7 linked regions of the Homo sapiens genome follow. The protein of the gene in region 5 interacts with the protein of the main gene of each other region in a pairwise test. Each region holds a gene or a part of one and is shown on either strand. Other genes may lie near its edges.

Region 1 (3,500 bases), on a different chromosome or scaffold from region 5:
ACTCCATCAGAAGGTACCACACCAAGCTCTTTTTTGCAGCACAACTTCAGGGATTTGAGTCTTGGATCCACATTTCTCAACTCAAGAGAGCCCCTCCAGACCCCTGGGACTGTACACCCATCGGAGATCTCCAGGTAAAGCTTACTAGGAACGTTTTTTTTCCCCAGAAGAAGATGGCATCCTTGATGTAGACAGCTTTCCCAAGATCATGAATAAAGTCTTTTCTCCTCTGTCAACATGAAGTCTTTTCTCCTTTTCCTTTTTGGCCCATGTTTCTTTTCTGTCTACACATGGCAATATAATGTGATAATGAAGATTTCATACTCAATTACTTCTGCATGGAACTTAACTGAGTATTGCATATGTCATGTTAAACCTAAATCCTCACATGATCTTAGAGATACTCTGGTTCACCCTGTAAGAAATTTCACTGATATTCCATGTGCAATATCTAGTTCTTTCTAAACAGCTAGACTTTTAGATTCAAATATTCAGATTGCCTGTTTAAATCTAACAGTAGGCAAAACCTATAATGAGAGTATGGTAATTAAATTAAGCCAGAATTGAATTTGAAAAACAAAAGGAAGATAATTCGACGTTTGTAGGCAAATTTATAACCCTAATCCTTTAGTTGCTAGTATCTTCTAACCATACAATGATTAAAAAATGAGGCCTTAGACAAATATTACTAATGCTGACTCATAATGCTGACTCATAACGCACAAGGCATCTCACACAGGAGACTATCTGTAGGGTTCTTCCAGAATATATTTTTATTTGTGGAGGATTTAACAACCAACCATATATGTGGGCAAATCCATGTCTCAATAATTACAAAATAAGGAGCCACCGACAATTAAGGGATTCCAAGAGTACTCCTGTCACTCCATAACTAATTGGAAACTGGATATTGGTCTGCAACTCTTAATTTGAACTATGGAATAAAGAGGAATTTACCAGCAGGTATGAATTCTTCTTAATGGGTATTGTTGGGTAAAAAATTCCTTCCCTGGCTTTGTATAAATGTAAAGGAGGTTATGCTTAGAAATACGTCTCATACATTAGTTACTACAGCTGACTCTACTGCAAAGGCTACAATTGGCCAGCAAACTTCTTTAGATTTTCTTGCTAAAGGCATATTAGGTAACCGGATTGCTTTGGACTACCTTTAGGGAGGAATATGTGCGCTAGCTAACACTCCCTCCTGTACTTAAGTAAATTCATCAGGTAGGGTAGAAGCTCAGTTGTAAGAAATCAACAAACAAGCCAATTGGTTAAAACAAGTAGATTTTTCTTCTGGCTTATTATTTATATATTTGATTTATGTTGGTTCAATTCATTGAGGTTCCTTCTGTCTCTTAGTATCAGCCTCCTGACAGCCATCATAATAGTTTCCCTGGTGCACCTTAACCTCCCCAGAGTCTTAAATCCTCTTATGCAGCTATTCATTCTATGTCAAATGGTCTCATTAAAATTAGAATAATGAAAACATAAAGAGAACATAAATAATCAGTCAACTGTCCTGATTTGTGAACTGTGAATTCCATACTGATACCAAATAAGTCAATGATGAAAGTGACAGAGAGTGATGTCAATGCCCAAGGTTTTGGTCAACCTCTCAAAATTGAGAGGCAGACCAAAAGGTGGGGAATTGTTAAATTAAGTTTGGCCTAAAATTGCCACGATATGTAGCAAACTGCAACTTAATGTAGTTTGTAAACAAACTGCAACCAAACTTAAGAGTATTTTCTTGTAACAAATATGGGTCTCAGCCAATCATGGCAGCTGAGCTTCAGCCAATCACAGGCTGCCAACTGATCAAACCATGCCTATACAAGGCAAATTTCTCACCACACTATGTCCAAATGAGGCAAATCTGAGCTGTAACCAATCAAGGTGTTTCCATATGTCACTTTCTTTTTCTGTCTATAAATACTGCCTGCCCACATCACTGGGTGAAGCTCTCTGAACCTCTACTGGTTCAGGATGATGCTGATTAATGAATCATTCATTGCTTAAGTGAATTCTGCTACATTTATCTTATCTATAGTTTTTCTTGTAACAGTGTCTATGATTAAATAATAAAGGTCATCTACATATTTATATTATATTTTGTTTTCTACATTTAGGAAAATGTATTGTCTGTTGCTTTTTTTTTTGTTTTTTCATGCAAGGCTTTTTTTTCTCAAAATTTTCCCCTTCTTCATAAAACACTTTTTTAAGCCTGATCATGTTAAAATATTTACACATCCTCACTATAATCTCCAATGGTTAGGCTTATTATTTAATATAAAGATTGAAAAACACTCTAGAAGAAGAAGAAAAATATATAAATAATGCCCAAAATTATTTATCATATTAAATAGAGATACTTTAAAGATTCATTCTTACCTGTCTTCAAAACTTTTGATATTATCTGCCAAGGTTGAAGTGTGTGCAGCCCATAAGTACTTCAACAGATCATCAAACTTACTAAAAGGTGACTGCAAATACTAAGGTAAAGAGGTCAAATTTATTAATATTTGAGCAACTATAAAATCCTTCTCCCTGAAATTTAGTCATGTTCAGATATATTTTAGCAATATTGTACATAAAAGAAGAATTTTATTTCTAAGAAAAAGTATGTATATGGCCTTAATGCCTAACACTCTTTAAATAACACAAAAATATTCATTAGTTTTAATAATAGCATATGCATCTATAAGTATTGAACTTCAAGTATTTTCAGAGTTTATATTTTATACCGATCAGGCCTTTATTTTTTCCTGTTAACACTGTTAAAATTACCATAAAATCGTGAGTAACAAAAATATCTTCTTAAAATGTTTCATTAGATCTAAACTAATGCAATAATCTACTAAAGTACTAGTAAATATATCTTTTCTTCATTGATTTTAGTCAAATTTCTTCCAATATCCTAGTGGACATGAAGACTCAATTAATCAGAATAGCTTATTAATCATTCAGCAAAATATCCTGTATGCTCACCATTTTTGTATAATGTATTTGAGGCAAGAAGAATGGATAGATTTATGTTAATGCTGTATTGAGGCAGTAGGTGTTAATGACTCATAACACTCTACAATATACTATTAATATATCATGCATAGCAATTTACATCTGCATACTAAGGAAAATATTATGTAATGCACAAAAAAATCCTAGACGAAATTATATGACAAAATAAACTCTCTTCCTATCTCGTAAGAGTATAAAGAAGGAACCTGGTAAAAGGTGTTCCACTTGTTCATTGTCTCAGGGAAGGATGAACGACAGCTAGAAACATCATAACAAAACTTCCTCTCATTCTTGGGTGGGGGCAAAAGCCTGACTTGGTCTGATGATATCCCCATTACACCAGAATCAACCGCAGCAAGAAAGGGTAATGAAGACAGAAAATAATTCAAATCTGTAAGAACAAAAGATTTACTATTACTACAAGCACTAACAAATTTCAAAGAGGATATTTTTAAGGAAGGCATAAGTCATAAAAAAATTCA
Region 2 (3,500 bases), on a different chromosome or scaffold from region 5:
TCTGTGTTTTCCACAATCTCTTGGAGACCAGAGATCTTTTGGAGACCAGGTGTTCTTATTTTTAATGGAAGCCAGTGTAGCCTAACAACCTAAGAACACAGGCTCTGGGTTCAAATCTCCACTGAGCACCTGCTAGTTGGATGAATTGGGCAGGTTACTTAACCTGCCCCTGCCTCTGCTTCGTCATCATAAAATGAGGATAATGGGACTTCACTATGGTATCGTCGTGAGCATTAGATGGGTTGAAGCCTTTAACATTTGTAGAACTATGCCTGGCACATTGCAATAGACGATAGCTGTTATCTATCCTAGTCGTGTGCTACAGAATGACCAATTTGGTCAATGATGCACCACATATACGACAGTGGTCCCGTAAGATTATAATCCATTTTTTATGGTACCTTTTCTGTGTTTAGATATGTTTAGATACACAAATGCTTACCATTGTGTTACAAGTGCTTACGGCATTGAGTACAGTAACATGCTGTATAGGTTTGTACACTAGGAGCAATAGGCTATATACCATATGGCCTAGGTGTGAAGTAGGCTATGCCATCCAGGTTTCTGTAAGCACACTCTATGATGTTTGCACAACAATGAAATTGCCTAGTGACACATTTCTCAGAATGCATCCTCGTGGTTAAGTGCATGACTGTATTATTGATAAAGTCATCTGCCTTCTCGATCTTCTCATCACTTCTGAGAGTTGTAGATAAATAGCTCTCCCCTCAAAACAGCCTAAAATTGACTTAGCTTTGCATTGCTAAAGAAGAGGAAAAGCCTCGAAGTTGGGATGTTTAAATAGAAACTTTCAACAAGAATCTTTTGCTCCTGCTTCAGATTGAGAATTCAGCAGAGGAGTTTGCCTTGTACGTGGTCCATACGAGTGGTGGTAAGTCTGAAGACCACAGTGTACTTTAAAACTTCTAATTAACTCAAAATAGCAAGTTAAAAAAATACCTCTGCCTCCTTTGCTTGTTGTTTGAGTTTTGGAAACTTCCAAATGTTGTTTGCCTTCAAGGCTGATGGGCTTGCTGTATGAGTCTACTAGGGATTGCCTTATATGGCCAGTAAACAAATTCTAAACCTAACTGCCTATTAAAAGAGGAACTAGATTTTCTTAAGAGACAGATAAACCCAATTCCTCCAAGGAGTTTGAGGCATGGTGGTATTGTTGAGGGGTGAGGAGTGGGAGGAAGTTGCTTTTCACAACACCTATGGAATAGTTCACTTATAAATCAGTCTCCTGACGTATATGGCGGCATCTCCTAAGGTGCCTTTGGACCCCTGCATTAACCACTACTTAATGTGAGAAAGGCCTCTCAGGGCTGCTCCTGGGTGTGTGTGGTTGCAGAGAAACAGAAGCTGAAGGCCACCGATTACCCGCTGATTGCCCGAATCCTCCAGGGCCCATGTGAGCAGATCTCCAAAGTGTTCCTAATGGAGAAGGACCAGGTGGAGGAAGTCACCTACGACGTGAGTTCCCTTTGGGTCAGGCGATCTGTCCTCAGGAGGGTGGGGATTTGGTTGGACCACCTGTAACTGGGGTATAGAATGACTTTTTTGACCAACGACCATGCCCCCTTTTACTTCTTCAGCACCAGGTTCTCTCGAAGCCAGCTTTTGCAGAGTAACAAACATCTCCAAATCATAGTAGCTGACAACAGCAAACATTTGCTTTTTTGCCCATGATTCTGTGGTCTAGTAGCAATGGCTCTACTCTAAGTATGGGTTGAGTTCAAGTCTGCACTGTGTGACTCACCCAGAGGCCCAGGCTTTTGGGGCAGTAGTTACTGCACATGGGTGTGGTCCTCATGGCAGATGGCGGAGCATGAGAAACCAGGCCAAATCATGTAAGCATATTTGAAGCCTCCACTCAGATTTGGTGTGTCATGTCCACACACATTCCACTGGCCAAAGCCAGTCACATGGACAAGCTCAGCATTAATAGGGTAGAGAAATGTACTTATCCCAGGGAGAAGAGTTGATAGAGCAGGGTGGGGATTCTTGTGGGGAAAGGGAAGCCATTTTTTAACTTTTTTTTTTTTTTTGGGATGGAGTCTCGCTCTGTTGCCCAGGCTGGAGTGCAGTGGCACCTCCCTGGTTCAAGCTATTTTCCTGCCTCAGACCCCTGCGTAGCTGGGACCACAGGTGTGCACCACCATGCCTGGCTAATTTTTGTATTTTTAGTAGAGACGGGGTTTCACCATGTTGGCCAGCTGGTCTTGAACTCTTGACCTCAAGTGATCCGCCCGCCTCAGCCTCCCAAAGTGCCGGGATTACAGGCATGAACCACGATGCCTGGCACCGTTTTTAAACTTTAACTCACCCCATAGCCACCCACAGCCTCTCCAAAGCGAGTTCATATTTGGATGCTTGTTTGAGCCTTGAGACCCAAATCGTCATCTGGAACCCTGATTCCTTCCATTCTCTTAGGGGAGAACAAAGGGGTTTATTAAACATAATGGGTTCAGTTCTTTCTCTGCATCACTGTGTCAAAAGAAAGTACTTTTCTGTGTTTGGCTTCACCTCATCATGAATTGAATGCATGACATGAAAAATGAGAAGTTATGAGATGGTGTCACGTAAGCGAAGCGATCATCGCAGACTCCTTCCCACCCTGGTGAGGAATGAGGCTTGGCTGCTGCCTTTAAGGAAATCCTGGGTTTCTGAAAAAAATAGACTTCCCAAGGCTTTGTGCCTTGTATAAGGACAACCCTGAAAGGAATTGGAATAATGCTGGGAAGGGCATTCACCCAGACTTGCTTCTTTCTCTCTAGGTGGCCCAGTATATAAAGTTCGAGATGCCGGTACTTAAAAGCTTCATTCAGAAGCTCCAGGAGGAAGAAGATCGGGAAGTAAAGAAGCTGATGCGCAAGTAAGTGTGGCTTCTGGGGCACTGGGTGCACTTCTCCTGGGGCCTCAACAGAGGGGCCTCTGCTGGGTCCTCGCAGGGACTGTGCTGAGCTGCTGCATGGGCCTGAGTCTCGGCTTTCTTTGGAGGGCTGCCCATTGACAAACCTGGATTTCAAGTGAGGACGTGACAGTTAAGTGTGTTCATCTACTTCTTGTGTCAGCTTCTCGTTTTGATGTGGGACATCAAAGTGTCTCTTGTCCTCCCTCTTATGGAAAGACTCTGAAAAGAAGGTGTTGGTTTAAAATTTCTTTGGGGTCTAGATGCAGAAATAGGGAAGGTGACTGTACGCTGGTTTCTTAAGTATACGATCAGGCTCCCAGCAGGAGACAGATGCTCACTCCGATGAGGGTCTTTGACGGGTGTTTGAAGAAGGGACTATTTGCGAAGACTTGGGCAGAGTCTGGGGTAACCTCAAGGGATAGTGCAGTCCCTGGGGCTAGTGTTACCACCCCTTGCCTGAAGGGGTGAAGGCAAGGAGTGCTAACCAAGACCCGGAGGTTCCAGGGATTTCAGGAAGGCTGTCTTAGCCGTGGATGTAGCCTGAGCTACTGGCCTCCAAAATCCTCTCCTCTCCCCCTTCCTC
Region 3 (3,500 bases), on a different chromosome or scaffold from region 5:
CTCCATCCTTTAGTCTAATCTCCCTGTCCTTTGTTCTGCAGGATAGTACAGTGGCTCAAGCCTATAATCCTAGCGCTTTGGGAAGATGAGGCAAGATGAGCGCTTGAGCACAGGAGTGTGAGACCAGCCTGGGGAACACAGTAAGACCCCATCTGTATACAAAAATTTTAAAAATTAGGCCTCGCATAGTGGCTCACGCCTGTAATTCCAGCACTTTGGGGGGCCAAGGCAGGTGGATCACGAGGTCAAGAGATGGAGACCATCCTGGCTAACACAGTGAAATCCCGTCTCTACTAAAAATACAAAAAATCAGCCAGACGTGGTGGCACGTGCCTGTAGTCCTAGCTACTTGGGAGGCTGAGGCAAGAGAATCGCTTGACCCCGGGAGGCGGAGGTTGCAGTGAGCCGAGATCGCGCCACTGCACTCCAGCCTGGGCAAGAGTGAGACTCCGTCTCAAAAAAAAATAATAAAATAAAATAAAAATTACCCAAGCATGATGGTATACACCTGTAGTCCTAGTTACCTGGGAGGCTGAGGTGGGAGGACTGTTTAAGCCCAGGAGTTCGAGGTTACAATGGGCTATTGCACCACTGCACTCCAGCCTGGGTGACAAAGTGCAACCCTATCTTTAAAAAAATAAAAAAATAAAAATAAGGACTCAGATGAGATTTAAAAGAGGCAGTGGATGCGTCACTGTGCCCTGAAGTACGCCTAATCAAGAATAGCCTTCCTGCTCTTTGAGGCCTACTCTCAAAATAAGGAAAAAAATCAACAGCCAAAAAATGAAGAGCCTGATGATAAACTTTTTTTTAAATTTTTTTGAGATGGAGTCTCACTCTGTTGCCCAGGCTGGAGAGCAATGGCATGATCTCGGCTCACTGCAACCTCCGCCTCCTGGGTTCAAGCAATTCTGCCTCAGCCTCAAGAGTAGCTGGGACTACAGGCGCATGTCGCCACACCCAGCTAATATTTTATATTTTAGTAGAGAGGGGTTTCACCATGTTGCCCAGGCTGGTCTCCATCTCTTGGGCTCAGGTAATCCACCCACCTTGGCCTCCCAAAGTGCTGGGATTACAGGCGTGAGCCACCGCACCAGGCCAGGTAAACATTTTTAATGGATCATACTTTTCTTACAGTTAAATTATTGGTAAAAATTTTCAAAGTTCATCACATTCTTAGGCTCCTAATAAATCAAACATTAATTGGGGCTAGAATAAAGTATTCTGGCTGGTAGGCTTGTTCCAATGTCAGACCAACTCCTTTTTCCAAAAGGCCACAAAAATATACTAGTCTCTTCATCAATAATATCAGGCATGAATACTACCATGAAAAAAAAAACAGGGTGAAATTTGTGGAAACAAGATTCTCACTGGCCTCTACTTTCCATAACTAGGTGCAACGGCTGCAAGACTACACACAGCCAATCCTCATTATCCTCAGGTATCACACCTGTGAATTCAACCACTCATTAAAATTTCTAACACTCAAATCAATACTTGTAGCAGTTTCTTTTTTTTTTTTTTTGAGACAGTCTTGCTCTGTCGCCCAGGCTGGAGTGCAATGGCACGATCTCGGCTCACTGCAAGCTCCGCCTCTCAGATTCATGCCATTCTCCTGCCTCAGCCTCCTGAGTAACTGGGACTACAGGCGCCCGCCACCACGGCTGGCTAATTTTTTTGTAGTTTTAGTAGAGACAGGGTTTCACCGTGCTAGCCAGGATGGTCTCGATCTCCTGACCTTGTGATCCGCCTGCCTCAGAATCCTAAAGTGCTGGGATTACAGGCGTGAGCCACCGCACCTGGCCAACCCTCAGTAATATTCTTTTAGGCTTAGCTAGACTTTTGAGAACTCTAGCCCCTAGCCACAATAGCACTTTGCCACTCATCCCTCTCCTGCCAAAAGCCTCTGACTCCAGCCAAATCAAGCCGATTGCTAGGCCTTATCTAGATTCAGTACCTTTCTATTCCCTGCTCATGTGATACCCCTCCGCCTGAAGGGCCCATCTACCACACCATTCCCTTAGTTTTCCACGCCTATAATCCTAGCACTTTGGGAGACCCAGGCGGGAGGATTGATTGAAGACAAGAGTTCAAGACCAGTCTAGGCAATAAAGAGAGACCTTGTCTCTACAAAAAAAAAAACAAACGATAAAAAAAAAAATTAGCTCGGAGTGGTGACACATGCCTGTAATCCCAGCTACTTGGGAGGCTGAGGCTGGTGGATTGCCTGAGCCCCAAAAGTTGGAGGCTGCTGTGAGCCACAATCACGCGATTGCACTCCAGCCTATGCGACAGAGTAAGGCCCTGTCTCACAAAAATAAAAATAGAAGATTCCTTACCCTCCACTAGTAACAATTTCCTTTAAATAACCTTCAAGAGCTCTTAGGCAGACCTCTTTCAATAGGACCTTTTCCGACATGACCCTCTTTTTGAGACAGGGTCTTGCTCTGTCGCTCAGGCTGGAGTGCAGTGGCGTGAACACAACTCACTGTACCCTTGACCTCCTAGGCTCAAGTGATCTTCCTGCCTCAGTCTCCCAAGTAACTGGGACCACAGACAAGCGCCATTAAGACTGGCTATTTTTTTTTTTTTTTGGAGAGATGCGTCTTACCATGTTGTCCAGGTTGGACTTGAACTCCTGGGCTCAAGCACTCTTTTCACCTTGGCCTCCCGAAGTGCTGGGATTACAGGCATGAGTTACCATACTCGGCCTCTGACCCCTTTCTATTCTGCATTGTCACCATTATCTGCTGACCTTAGCTACTCATCCATAAGCTTTTTTGAGGCAAGATCCATAGCTCTGTGTCACTGTAGCATCTAACATGTACAGTGTAGCAGATGTGCAGTGGATCACAAATAATGGAATGATTACCCACTATTAACTCTAATATCCTGTCTCACATTTGTCACATTCATTACTTCCAGGGTTTAGAAACCCAAAGCTACGGGAATCCAATGCTTATTTTGAGCTTTATCCAAAATTCAACTAAACATTAGTCAGAATATTACTTTGATTACTCCAAGAAAACAAATACTGGCACACTGCTGTTTTAAAACCTCACATTCATTTTTACCAAGAGCACTGGCTGAGTAACATACTGTGTTCAAGGGTTGGGGACACAGAGGTGACTAGTTCACACAGAGGCCTATTTTCAGAGATCTTGTGGTAGAGATGAGACATGTGTGTTGATGGCTACAGTAAAGGTGCTACACAAAAGTCATGAATACAGTGCCTTAGGAAGAGAATAACGAAGAAGAAGCTCTGCCCGATAGATCAGGCTTTACATACAGGCGTCTCCAAGCAGAAAAAGGCACAACAGTAGAGCAATGGACATGTCCAAAGTCCAGGATGTGGAAAGTAGGGTGTGGCTGGAAGGAAGGGTGAGGACCAGAGATGCTGCTGGAAATCAGGCAGTGCCAAGTACACTAAGACTCTAATTGGCCAGTCTGAATGAGCCGTCCTTTTTAACAAGCTTTTCTGAGGTTTCAAATGGGTAGTT
Region 4 (3,500 bases), on a different chromosome or scaffold from region 5:
GTCACGCAGGCTGGAGTGCAGTGGCACCATCTCGGCTCACTGCAAGCTCCGCCTCCCAGGTTCACGCCATTCTCCTGCCTCAGCCTCCCGAGTAGCTGGGACTACAGGTGCCCGCCACCACGCCTGGTTAATTTTTTGTATTTTTAGTGGAGATGGGGTTTCACTGTGTTAGCCAGGATGGTCTTGATCTCCTGACCTCGTGATCCACCCACCTCGGCCTCCCAAAGTGCTAGGATTACAGGCATGAGCCACAGCACCCAGCGAACACTGCAATCTTGTTGGAAATTTAAATTAAGAAACATGCAGTGACCAAGTATATCCCCATTATGGGGTATACTGACCCTACCTGGGACCTCTGCAGATGCACTGGTTGAGATATGGAGACAATCCCCCCAGGATACTGGCTACTATGTTCTCAGAAAAATTCTCAGTAAACATATGGGCTGTCAAATATTTGCCCAAATATTGGTTACAGATACTTAAGGGACTGTAATCAATTGCACACCTTAAACTTGTGCTGCTCACTTTTCTCATCAGTAAGTTAAAGAAAATAAAGGAGTAGAATAAAATAGCCTCTGAAGTATCTTTGTTTCTATTTGTCTATAATCTGCTTCTTAAAATTAAATAGAACCTTTTCGTTCAATGATTATCAACTAGATGGGATGTCAGCAAATTACAGCCCAGCACATGAACCAAATCGAGGCTGGTTTTGAACATAAAAGTTTGATTGGTACCAGCCACACCATTTGATTCTGTATTGTCTATGACTGCTTTCCTGCTACAATGGCAGAGGCAAAGTTGAATAGTTGTGTAGTTGCAAAAAGACTATATGTTCCACAAAGCCTAAAATGTTCACTATCTGACAATTTACAGATATCTGCTGACTCCTGAACTAGATGATGAATAACAATTTATATAATTCCAGAAAGCACCGATGCTCTGAGCCCAGTGAGGATAAGTGTTAATTTGACCATAGAAACTAGGGCATCTTATACTTACTTGGGTAAACCTTTAATGCAAGCAGCCAAGTCCTTGGTCATGAAGCCAGCCTCAATTGTCTCAATAGAGACTTCTTCCAAAGCATTTGCAAAGAAGGCAAGCTCTTTATTGTTATCAAGCTTTGCTCTGTGGGCTAACCCTCTGGTCCAGGCAAAAATGGAAGCTAAAAGAGGGGAAAAAAAACACAACACTCCAATCATCCTAGTTATAGAGGTTTCCAAATGTCTCATAGTTCCCCAAAACAGAATAGTTTTTTGTTTAGGTGACAGACTTCTTTAGATACTAACCACATGGGCTAGAAGTTTTAGGAGAGTTAGAAATATTTTACCAAACAGAAACTTTAAAAAAACACATTTTCATGGCATGGTACTAGTGTTTGAAACTTAAGGCATTTTCTAATTTGAAAAAGGTCACAATCTCTTCTATCTCTTGTCTATATTGGTCTCCTTTTTCCAGGCTGTAATCTCTTTTTGAAGTGCTATCTTTGAAACTTGTTAAAAGGATCTATCCATGTGACTTTTAGATTTGTAGCCTTATGTGACATTTCACTGCACCAGAGGTAAAGGAAAATGCTTGTTGATAACATTCCTCTCTGTAACCTATGTTCTCCCACAAAACAGAAAAGCAAATATTGTATATTTTAAGAAGCATATTCAAATAGATCTTACTAGTAGAACAAATCAGCTACTTGGTGATGACTTTGCACACAAAACACTGAGCAGCCAAGGGAACACATCTGGGCTGCTTTGGAGAGCACTCTCTGGTGAGAAATCAATGTAAACACCATCTTACCAATGGGATTGGTGGACGTCTCCTGTCCTTTCTGGTACATGCGGTAGTGACGGGTTACAGTCCCGTGGGCAGCCTCTGCTTCTACTGTCTTGCCATCTGGACAAACCAGCACGCTGGTCATCATGCCGAGAGAGCCATACCCTGTAAGTAGTGGAGCATGAAGCGTTGGGTCCAACTGCATGAAGAGCACTGAGTCTCTCAGAGATGAGAGCATAAATGACTCAATCTTGATAGGTCTTGGTAAGCAAAGTAAACAAGAGCACATGGAATCACCAATAATTCTGCCTTTCAGAAGGCAGGATCCCCGCTCCAGATATCAGAGCCAATGGGTCTGGAAAGGCTGCATTTTCCCCTCACTTATTTCAGGGATACCTACTCCTTGATGGAGGGTTCAGGGTCCAACTGCCTACATTCCACTCTAGTTCTATGACTTCATAGCTACTGCGGCTCAGTTTTCTTATCTGTAAAATGGGAGTAATAACAGCACCTACTTCACTAGGTTGCTGTGGGATTAGATAAATATACATATATTCATAAATATATATGAATATATATTTATATTCCTTAGAATAGTACTGGACACAGAGCTCAATCTATTATTGTTATTCTTATGTGCAATGCTCTGCTGTTCTGGGGAAATAAAGATGGACGAGAGCTGTCTCTTAAGAACCCTCAAGCTGCTCATACACTTGCTGGGACTGGGAAGAGAAGGCAGGTAAACACAGGATCGGTTGGATCTAAGAACATCCCAGTTGCCCTTCCTCGCTCTCTTTCATACCCTCAGTACAACAGTTCTCTTCTGTGGTTTCTTATTGAAAGAACCACATTACAACTCTTATATCTATATAATTGATTTTCTTCTTTTCTCCATTTTTGCTACCTCCCAACATCACCTGTGAAGTTAATAATCAACCACGGAGTCATCACAAAGCAATAACACTCCTTCCTCTGTTGCATTCAGTACAAATGATTGTGAGGATGTAGAGAAACAGAAGGATGGTAAGGAGAGTTGTGTAACTCATTTATCTGGCAAAAAGTTATCTTTAACCAGGTTGATCTACTGATTTTCAAACTGAGAGGAGATGTTTAACACTGATAAGAGACAGAAAAAGTAGTACTTCTTGGGAAAAACAAACATAATTAAAGTTAACAAACATTCATCTGGGGAGATTCAAGTTCATACAGCTACCAAGGGCAACTGAAACTGAAGGGCAACTTGGTGCTGAGGAAACCAGGCGCTGTGTTTCTGTTGATTTGGCCCTTACCCCATGCATGAAACTTCTCCTGGAATTTCTGTAAACAGCCCCTAGGGTTCTTTGCTCAATTGATTTGTGTGTAAGCTAAGCAGTAAACAAAAACACTTTTTCTTTGTTGTTGTTGAGACAAGAGTCTTGCTCTGTTGCCCAGGCTGGAGTATAGTGGCGTGATCTCAGCTCACTGCAACCTCCGCTTCCCAGGCTCAAGAAATTCTCATGCTTTAGCCTCCTGAGTGCCAGGGACTATAGGCATGCGACCACACCTGGCTAATTTTTTTTTTTTTTTTTTTTTGAAGTAGAGATGGGGTTTTGCTATGTTGGCCAGGCTGGTCTTGAACTCCTGGCCTCAAGTGATCCACTGCCTTGGCCTCTCAAAGTGCTAGGATTACAGGCGTGAGCCACTGTGCCCAGCCAAACACATTTGTTTTATATTCTACCAGAACAGCAGCTGGC
Region 5 (3,500 bases):
AGATATAATGATGCACGTTTAGTTGAAGCAGACAGTGATTCTCTAGTTCACCAAAGTAAAAAGACAAGAATTGGGAATAACAAAAAGGGAGAAAGACACTGAATAAGGTAAATAGGTAGTGGGAGTGCCAGTGAGCAGATGCTTCTAAACTGCTCCTTTAAGGATGGCCTTTCAAAGGGATGACAGGTCAATTGGTGACCTTGCGACAGGCAGAGCCACAGCACCTTGGAGTTTGCTTTTCCTTCCCCACTTATTGATTCAATCTCCACCAAATACGAAGTGTATCTTGTCATAAAGAGTTTCCTTTTCCAGAAGAATCAAAAGGGCTATCACCATATAAAATCAGATATGTGAAATACAGAATATGCATACTTTACTATATTTATGAATCAATCTGTTGATAACTTTTCCTCAATTATTTGTTACATTAAAAAATTAATAAAGTATAAAAAGAAAGAAAACCTACGAAATTAAAATATGCTTTGGGAATGCTCCCACTTATCCACTCCAGCAACATTTCTAGATGATCTACTCTGCAAGAGACACTATGCTGGTGATACTTGATGGCACCGGATAAGACAAAGGACCTGTCCACAAGGGAAGGCTTGTTGTCCAGCATGAGAAGTGAGAGAATGACTCATTTTCCTTTCTAACCATCTGACTCTTTTGTTCTTTCTTTTTGCCCCCTCTTCCATTTTCATCCGTTCATTCAATTGTTCATTCAATAGTTTCCAATGGAGTATTTATTATGTACCAGACACTTTGTTAGGTAGTAAGGATAAAGCAATAATGAAAAATACACAGCACAGGCCCTTAAACAGCCTACAATCTAGCGGAAGATAGACAGAACAAAGAAACAAATGTGAAAGTGAGGAAATCACAGAAATAATTCTATTATAAACTACAAAGTGATAGGTATCTCAAGAGATATCTGTGAGATAAAGGTAAAAGATTAAGTGTGGCTGCCCAGAGGAGGAAATAATTACTTTCCTCTTTTTCTAAAATCTGTTTAACTATGAGTTGTTGCACCTCGTACACGGAGGTATCGATACCCACACAGCTGACAGTATCCTTCTCCATTCCAAGTACTGCAACCCTCATCTTGGGTCACTTTCACATTTATTTGATGTGAATCAATATAAATCTCTTTGATTACCTGACTGTAATCTTCACCTTCATACCAATTTAGTCTCTGTCTTCCAAGGACACAGCCTGTTTCTTAAAATGCTGTGTCACATCAGAAATGTAAGCACACACAACTGTCCTTCTGTGTCTCTCCCTCCCTTCCTCCAGTATGGTTGTGTTTGATTTGACTGAGACCATTTCCAATCCCTTTCATCCTGGTCAGCTCTATCCTTTTGGATTTACATCATTCAATTCCGGCCTAGACCTTCTCTTCCCTGACGTTTTCTTCCTAGTTTCTTTTGGAGGTTTATCTTCCTTTGAAAAATCTACCAAATGTTGGTATGCCCTAAATATTTTCCTTTCCTTAACTCTTTTCCTGTTTCACTCTTCCTTCTTATCTTCAACAACTGCACTTACTCCCATGCCTTCAATAACCACCAACATGCTGAGGAACACAGGTTATCTGTCTCCAGCCTAGACCTCTTTGCAGGCTCTGTTCCCATACTTCCAACTGCCTTCTGAGTAGAGCTGCACGTAAATATTCACATTAAACATGTTTAAAACTGAAATATTAGTATTTTTTTCTCCCCAACCAGCTCTTCCTAACAGCACCTCCAACTTCTTAAGTCAAAAATTTGAAATTCATATCAAACATCTCATCATACTTCCTTCCCACCTGCCTAACCGTCAGCAACCAGTCCTATTGGTCTCAGGCTCCTTAAACCTTTTGTTTGCTCCTGCCACACCATCTCCACTGCCACACTCTTGGATAGTCTTCCAGCTGACGGCTTTGCTTTCAGTTGTCTTCCTATTTCTCTAGCACTGCCTAACTAGCCAGGTGATGCTTCAACTTTAAGCATTTCAATGGCTCCTCATACCTCTTAGAAAAGCTAAGGCCCACCATAGATGGGGAGGAGGAGCCAAGATGGCCGAATAGGAACAGCTCCAGTCTACAGCTCCCAGCGTAAGCGACGCAGAAGACGGGTGATTTCTGCATTTCCATCTGAGGTACCGGGTTCATCTCACTAGGGAGTGCCAGACAGTGGGCGCAGGTCAGTGGGTGCGCGCACCATGCGCGAGCCGAAGCAGGGCGAGGCATTGCCTCACTCGGGAAGCGCAAGGGGTCAGAGAGTTCCCTTACCTAGTCAAAGAAAGGGGTGACAGACGGCACCTGGAAAATCAGGTCACTCCCACCTGAATACTGCGCTTTTCCGACGGGCTTAAAAAAACGGCGCACCAGGAGACTATATCCCGCATCTGGCTCGGAGGGTCCTACGCCCATGGAGTCTCCCTGATTGCTAGCACAGCAGTCTTGAGATCAAACTGCAAGGTGGCGGCGAGGCTGGGGGAGGGGCGCCCGCCATTGCCCAGGCGTGCTTAGGTAAACAAAGCAGCCGGGAAGCACCAACTGGGTGGAGCTCACCACAGCTCAAGGAGACCTGCCTGCCTCTGTAGGCTCCACCTCTGGGGGCAGGGCACAGACAAACAAAAGGACAGCAGTAACCTCTGAAGACTTAAATGTCCCTGTCTGACAGCTTTGAAGAGAGCAGTGGTTCTCCCAGCAGGCAGCTGGAGATCTGAGAACGGGCAGACTGCCTCCTCAAGTGGGTCTCTGACCCCTGACCCCTGAGCAGCCTAACTGGGAGGCACCCCCCTGCAGGGGCATACTGACACCTCACACGGCCGGGTACTCAAACAGACTTGCAGCTGAGGGTCCTGTCTGTTAGAAGGAAAACTAACAAACAGAAACGACATCCACACCAAAAACCCACCTGTACATCACCATCATCAAAGACCAAAAGTAGATAAAACCACAAAGATGGGGAAAAAACAGAGCAGAAAAACTGGAAACTCTAAAAAGCAGAGCGCCTCTCCTCCTCCAAAGGAATGCAGTTCCTCACCAGCAACGGAACAAAGCTGGACTGACAATGACTTTGACAAGCTGAGAGAAGAAGACTTCAGACGATCAAATTACTCCGAGCTACGGGAGGACATTCAAACCAAAGGCAAAGAAGTTGAAAACTTTGAAAAAAATTTAGAAGAATGTATAACTAGAATAACCATTACAGAGAAGTGCTTAAAGGAGCTGATGGAGCTGAAAACCAAGGCTCGAGAACTACGTGAAGAATGCAGAAGCCTCAGGAGCCAATGCAATCAACTGGAAGAAAGGGTATCAGCGATGGAAGATGAAATGAATGAAATGAAGCGAGAAGGGAAGTTTAGAGAAAAAAGAATAAAAAGAAACGAGCAAAGCCTCCAAGAAATATGGGACTATGTGAAAGGACCAAATCTACGTCTGATTGGTGTACCTGAAAGTGACGGGGAGAATGGAACCAAGTTGGAAAACACTCTGCAGGATATTATCCGGGAGAACT
Region 6 (3,500 bases), on a different chromosome or scaffold from region 5:
AAACAAGGTTTCATTCCAAATGTAAGGAGGGTTAGCAAAACCTCGTTTTTCTCTTTAATTTTTTTTAAAAGTACATTTATAAAATCTTTGTAGATTTCATGTAACTTTTGCTTTGCAGGGAAGATGCAGGTGTGAGCCACCGTGCCCGGCCTCATATAGATTTTTAAAACTTGAGGTAGCTTGTGAAGTTATTTCTACTAACTTTATAAAACTTTTGAGATTGCTATGTACAGTTAGTTTTGTGGGTTTTTTTTTTTAAGGGAAGTGAAGATTGCATTCTCTTAGGCTGTTTAGTTACTCAGAATACTAGATTGGCCTAGCCAAACCTGTAAAGGTATTTATTTGGTAGAGAAAATTTGAAGCTGTGGTTTCATTTGTATCTCCATTTGAAAAAATACAGTTGTTTCTTGGTGTCCACAGGGGATTGGTTCCAGGACCCCCCTGCCCATACCAAAATCCAAGCGTGCCCAAGTCCCTTATATAAAATGGTGTGGTATTTGCACGTAACTAACACACATCCTCCCATATTTTAAATCATCTGTGGATTGCTTGCAATACCTAACACAATGTAAATGCTGTGTAAAAAGTTGTTATACCGTATTGGTTTTTTTATTTGTATTTTTTGTTGTATTGTTTTATTTTCTTAATATTTTCAGCCTGGGGTTAGATGTGGAACCTGTAGATACAGAGGGCCAACTCTATATTGAATAGAAAATAATAATAATAGAAAATATGTGATTCTGGCTGGGCGTGGTGGCTCACACCTGTAATCCCAGCACTTTGGGAGGCCAAGGCGGGTGGATCACCTGAGGTCAGGAGTTTGAGACCAGCCTGACCAACATGGTGAAACCTTATCTCTAATAAAAATACAAATATTAGCCCGGTGTGGTGGCGTGCATCTGTAATCCCAGCTACTCTGGAGGCTGAGACAGGAGAGTTGCTTCAACCTGGGAGGCGGAGGTTGCAGTGAGCCGAGATCGAACTCCAGCCTGGTGACAGAGCAAGACTCCATCTCAAAAAAAAAGAAAGAAAGAAAATATGTGATTCTAATAAATCCCCCTTCCGTTCTGTAAACTTTCGTATTTACTTTGTGAGTTGTTAATTGGATTAAATTTTGTTTGCTTAAATTTATAAGTATTGTTATATTCAAGAGAGATGAAGGCTTATTTTGTGCCTTTTATAGTGGTAATGAAAATTTGTAACACTTTAAATTGCAAAAGAGAAAAATTAAACCTTTCTAATCAAAAGATCTAATGGTTACCACCATACCCATATGATCAACCTTAGCATTGCTGTTAGACGGCCTGACGCAGTGTGCCTGCTGTGTGTTGCAGGAAGGGGCACACTGCCTCACCTGGGAAGTGTTCCTGCCTAAAAGCTTTACCCTGAATTCGATCAGGCCTTTAACCTCCAGGTTTCAGGAATTACAAGGCATAGAGGAACAAGCTCAACTAAATAACCAGGTAGTTATTAGACAGATCTAGAACAAACAGCATTTTACAAGATAGTGTCAGAGGAAAAAAAGGAAGAGGAGATGAAGATGATGGTGATGATGATGATGGGGAAGAGGGACTGTTCTTAATCAAGACACTTAAAAACCAAAAGCATTTCAGGAACTTTGGTAGGATCCTGGTTCAAAAAAAAAATCAGCTGTTTAAAGGACATTTTTGGGATATCTTGGAGAATCTGAATGTGAACTGGATGGGAAATGACATGGGAATTAGTGATTTTATTAGGGGTAGTAATCTGACAGGAGAATGTCCACGGTTTCAGGAGATTGGGGTGAAGTGTCATGATGTCTCCAACTTTCTTTCAAATGGTCTAGCAAAAAATACAGGTGTAAGGGCAAGAAGTATGGTAGAACATTAACAATAATTGAATGTATAGAAATGATTTTCTTTTAAAAACTTTTTTTTGTAGATTCATAATAAAGGAGATAGGAAGGATTCTATATCCTAGTAGGAGGGAACAAAACTCTTATCCCCAAGTATCTTTTGAAAGTGACTAAGTTTACTGTAAACCTTTCACAGAAATGGAGAAAATCTCATGTTTTTGAAAAAGCTGAAAGAAAATAATATATGATTATAGTAATAAATTAAAAGGCTGTTGTTTTGAGATTATGGTTTTCTCATATCTCAAAGGTTTGTTGCAGGGACCAGAAAGAAAATCTTTGTTGCAAACAGTGTGAATTTTAATTTGAAACTTCAGTATGTTTTCCTTGTTTTTGATGATTTTAGAGCCAAAGGACGAAACAAAGTACAGTCCTCGCCCCAGTCATTGACCTGAAGCGAGGTGGCTCCTCAGATGACCGGCAAATTGTGGACACTCCACCGCATGTAGCAGCTGGGCTGAAGGTAAGCCCGCGCCTGCCTGTGAGCTTGATACGTGTCTCTGTTCCCATGTGGCTTATTTTGCATATGAGTTACTCTTAACAGATGGCCTCCTTGGTGGGCCTTTGAAACCAAGTTAGTATCATTTTCCACCTAATTTTTACTTCTGTTTTGCCAATTTTAAAATGTATCTATTTGAAATTAAATAGTTTGTTGTAGAAAAATCAGAAACTAGAGATACGCAGAAAGAAAAACAAATTACCTTCAGTCATACAATCCGGAAGTGAAAAACGTAATATTTTTCCATCCTGTGCCTACTCCACCTTCTGCTAACTTGCTTTTCTTACTTAATACGTTGTGACTCTGTCAAAAAATACAGGACTGTATGATCACGTTTATGGCTTCACTATATTCCCTTGTATATAGATGGACTATAATTTAATTCCTTTAATGCTGGATATATGGGTTGTTTCTATTTTTTGCTATCATAAACAGTGTTAGTACTTACTGATTTATTGTGGATTAAAACAGAGAAAGGGGTTTTAAAACCCACTTCTACCACCCTAACCTGTATGATTCCAGTGATTTTACATATGCTTAAAAACAAACATGTGGTCAACTCTATAAATTGGGTTATTGAGGATGAAGAAGATCTGGAAAAGGATAACTCAAAATCATAGTTAAAACTAGACAAAATGAGGTAAAATGAGTGAATAAACTAGTTAAAATTATACCCACAATTTAAGTATACATTTATCTTTCCACAGATGGCGTTCAAATAATGACTGTGGTCATTTAAACAGCATCATGAATTGCACAAAACCGCTTGATGAAAAATGACCAAAAGATTAATAATAGTGCTATCGAGACAGTTTCTTAGCAAGGCGCGCCTGTCCTCCCCACCACCTGTGGGAAGGGCTGCATCAGGCTGGGGCAAAGGGCACACTCCTGCCCATCTGTTTCACGTCACTGTTCTGGGTTGGGCTCCGTCTCCTGCCTGTCCTGCTTATGTTCTGGGCCAGTCTGTGGCTGCAGCTTACCCTTGAGTTGTCCTTTTCTGAGGGGAGCGGGTGCTGTTCCTGAGGGCTGGTAGTTCTTCTGGAGGGGAAGCACCACATGGTGGAGGTGTTTTTTTGCTGATTCCTAGTCATTGAGCATTTTCCCCCATAA
Region 7 (2,648 bases), on a different chromosome or scaffold from region 5:
TAGACTTTATTGAAGAAAGAGGAAAGACAGATATTTCTAGATGTCTTTAGGAATGGGAGATACATGTTGTAATTGAAGAGTTCAGCTTAGAGGTGAAGTGATTGAATAGAAGTTTAATAAGTTATATCCATTCTGTGAAAAGATCAGTCACCGAATTTTTAATGTAATTGTTACAAAAATAGCCAGCTAAAGTCAGAAAAAGACTGCCCCCAAAAGGGGCTTTTAAAAAAATTAGGATTGGACTTGCCTAAGTAAAAACACAATGTAGATATCCAACTTAACAACTTTAAGTAGGGAGAAAAAACTATTGAGATCCGGGTGATTTTTTTTTTTTTTTTTCTGTTCCTATCACATCTCACTCCCAGTAGGTGTTGCATTTTTGGATGAATCTAATAGTTTTCCTTTATTTTCACTTTTCACGAGGTGAGATTAGATGTCTGTGTGAAATGAATGTTTTACTATGGTCCTACACATAATGTTAAAATTACAAAGTAAAATAATGAGGTACAAGATATTTATTGACACCAAAATACATACAAGTATTTCCGAACAAGATGAAAATATCTCCTGGTTTCTCACACAGAGACCCATACTACTCGGAAGGCAGGATATGCCAGTTTTCCTTTGTGGAAAAGTGTATCCAGGCAGCAAACTTAATGAGGAGTGGGCAGTTTTGTCCTTAAAAAACTGCAGGGAAGGGTTCTTTCCAGGGAGTGGTAGTTGGTGCTCCAGGTGCTGGCAGGGACAGGACAGCTGATTGATAGAAGTGAGGGCTCTAACAAAGTTCACTATTTACATCAAAATGACTTGATGGGGGCTCTGGGCCTCTGGGCCTTGTTAAAAGATGATGCTGAACCATGTCTTGAAACCCCACCAGCATTAGGCTTAGGTACTAAGCAAGTCCGGACTGTATCCCTGGCTCAGTGACTGACCAATCACAACACGTGCCCAGTTGAATAGTGACTGTAACAGATCACCACTTTTAATGCTCCCAGAAGAAATGAGCACACAAAAACTAGCTGAGAAAAACCCTTTCCCACATCCTCCTCTGCCTATGTGGGCACTGAGGCAACTGCCCTGACTGTGAAAGTTCACCCCTTGTGAATACCACTCTTTAAATCCAAATTGCTTCATTGAGATCTTAAAAGGAATCTTGAAATCCAGATGATTGGGTAGAAAATGTGACATGGAATTTTACTCTAGCGTCAAAACAACTTTTAAAATAGTCCTGCTTATTCAAGTTAGTTTCTCCTCCAGAAATCTGAAATTAGATTTGATAAGTTAAAGATTATACAAACAGGGTGGCTTTCAATAATTTAATTAGACTCATGCCAAAAAAATGAGCTTCCAGGAAATATTAAATATTATTCTTAAAGCAATTTGGACACAGACAATCACACATACATAAGGAATGGAGACAAAAAGTTTCTCCCAAAAGTGCCAGTGTTTTGTTTTGTTTGGAAAAATGACAACACAATTAGAGGTAAACAATATTTTCTTTGGCTCCATCTCCAGTTTCCCCATCTTGTCTGGTCATTGTCCTTGTCGGTAGATTTAGCTTTGCTTCTGTTATAAACGCCTGCAGTTGAGGGCGGTGTGAATTTGAGTCATGGGGGGTTGGGGACTCAGTGTGGGAGGTGTCCAAATCTGCAAGAAACAGACAGCACAGGTTACAGGAGGCCACCTGAGATGTACAAGGCAGATGTCTTGGCGTTAGAGCTCTCTAAGATTAGGAAATGCAGTGCCCATATAGTCAGCCACAGAATGGCCAAGCCCAATGAGAAAGGAACATAATAGGTGTCAAAATCATTCATCAATATCATTAAGATATGTTCGATTGTGTGCACAAATGTCTCCTGTGACTAAATATGGGTTACTGTTCATGGGATCTTAAACCGCTGCTATTGCTGAAAAAGGGATGCCCATTTATTTTTTAAAATGGGTGAAAGTCATGGAAATACAGTATATACTCCAGCTATGTGTAAATCAACTATATTTGCATCTGCAGAGCACCTTCCCTCAGAATATCTGTCAGTCAAGAATTGACTTCAAGGCTCAAATAACATATTTGGCACTTTACTGATGTGGTCAAGGGGTGGGGGTAAAAAGTGAAAGAATGAAGGAGACCCTCCAGCCTCACCATTATGCTGTTAATCACAGATCTGTTAATACTACACAAAGTACTCAGCAAGAGCAGCCAGGTTCCTAGGGAAAATCAAGCCAGTTTCAGCTCTGACTGGGTTTGATGTTTTCTGGTTACCTAGCAACAGCAGGACACTGTGTATTCTCCCTTTTTCTGATAAAATCCTCTAATATTATATTTTCAAGGAGAGACAAAAGGGAGGCTTGATTTGAAGAAAGACACTTGCTGCAAACCATTTTCCCTGCACTTGTTCCACTGACCACTCACCCTCAGGCTCAGCCATATGGCAAAATTACAAATAACCAGCTTGTGTTAGAACAAAAACCTGAGTAGGAATGGAAGTCCAGGTGGGAAAGGAGGGCAAATAGCTCTGAGGCCCACCTGCTTATTTTTCAGTCATTAAGAAGAGGCCACATACACCTACTACAAACTTATAAAAATTAAAATTAAAAAAAAATTTAAAGAACATAAAGAAAAAAAAGAGGCCATTGTAACCCTCGCCACA

What was found.
Region 1: the proteins of NEK7 (region 5) and C6orf58 interact in binary tests that used the Homo sapiens proteins (3 or more experiments, as listed by UniProt).
Region 2: the proteins of NEK7 (region 5) and RASSF2 interact in binary tests that used the Homo sapiens proteins (3 or more experiments, as listed by UniProt).
Region 3: the proteins of NEK7 (region 5) and RBM5 interact in binary tests that used the Homo sapiens proteins (3 or more experiments, as listed by UniProt).
Region 4: the proteins of NEK7 (region 5) and IDH1 interact in binary tests that used the Homo sapiens proteins (3 or more experiments, as listed by UniProt).
Region 6: the proteins of NEK7 (region 5) and RBM17 interact in binary tests that used the Homo sapiens proteins (3 or more experiments, as listed by UniProt).
Region 7: the proteins of NEK7 (region 5) and ARHGEF28 interact in binary tests that used the Homo sapiens proteins (3 or more experiments, as listed by UniProt).

Annotation. Positions count from the first base shown.
Region 1 is NC_000006.12:127,580,174-127,583,673, reverse strand, and holds part of C6orf58 (protein LEG1 homolog precursor), read right to left. Parts: intron 3,410-3,500; coding exon 3,225-3,409; intron 2,493-3,224; coding exon 2,392-2,492; intron 1-2,391. UniProt on the Homo sapiens protein: May be involved in early liver development.
Region 2 is NC_000020.11:4,785,609-4,789,108, reverse strand, and holds part of RASSF2 (ras association domain-containing protein 2), read left to right. Parts: intron 1-840; coding exon 841-892; intron 893-1,354; coding exon 1,355-1,476; intron 1,477-2,780; coding exon 2,781-2,878; intron 2,879-3,500. UniProt on the Homo sapiens protein: Potential tumor suppressor. Acts as a KRAS-specific effector protein. May promote apoptosis and cell cycle arrest. Stabilizes STK3/MST2 by protecting it from proteasomal degradation.
Region 3 is NC_000003.12:50,095,419-50,098,918, reverse strand, and holds part of RBM5 (RNA-binding protein 5), read right to left. Parts: intron 1-3,500. UniProt on the Homo sapiens protein: Component of the spliceosome A complex. Binds to ssRNA containing the consensus sequence 5'-AGGUAA-3'. Regulates alternative splicing of a number of mRNAs.
Region 4 is NC_000002.12:208,238,072-208,241,571, forward strand, and holds part of IDH1 (isocitrate dehydrogenase [NADP] cytoplasmic), read right to left. Parts: intron 1,933-3,500; coding exon 1,792-1,932; intron 1,163-1,791; coding exon 1,000-1,162; intron 1-999. UniProt on the Homo sapiens protein: Catalyzes the NADP(+)-dependent oxidative decarboxylation of isocitrate (D-threo-isocitrate) to 2-ketoglutarate (2-oxoglutarate), which is required by other enzymes such as the phytanoyl-CoA dioxygenase.
Region 5 is NC_000001.11:198,313,998-198,317,497, reverse strand, and holds part of NEK7 (serine/threonine-protein kinase Nek7), read right to left. Parts: intron 1-3,500. UniProt on the Homo sapiens protein: Protein kinase which plays an important role in mitotic cell cycle progression. Required for microtubule nucleation activity of the centrosome, robust mitotic spindle formation and cytokinesis.
Region 6 is NC_000010.11:6,099,034-6,102,533, forward strand, and holds part of RBM17 (splicing factor 45), read left to right. Parts: intron 1-2,237; coding exon 2,238-2,354; intron 2,355-3,500. UniProt on the Homo sapiens protein: Splice factor that binds to the single-stranded 3'AG at the exon/intron border and promotes its utilization in the second catalytic step. Involved in the regulation of alternative splicing and the utilization of cryptic splice sites.
Region 7 is NC_000005.10:73,939,843-73,942,490, reverse strand, and holds the end of ARHGEF28 (rho guanine nucleotide exchange factor 28), read right to left. Parts: intron 1,648-2,648; coding exon 1,478-1,647; 3' UTR 501-1,477; downstream 1-500. UniProt on the Homo sapiens protein: Functions as a RHOA-specific guanine nucleotide exchange factor regulating signaling pathways downstream of integrins and growth factor receptors. Functions in axonal branching, synapse formation and dendritic morphogenesis.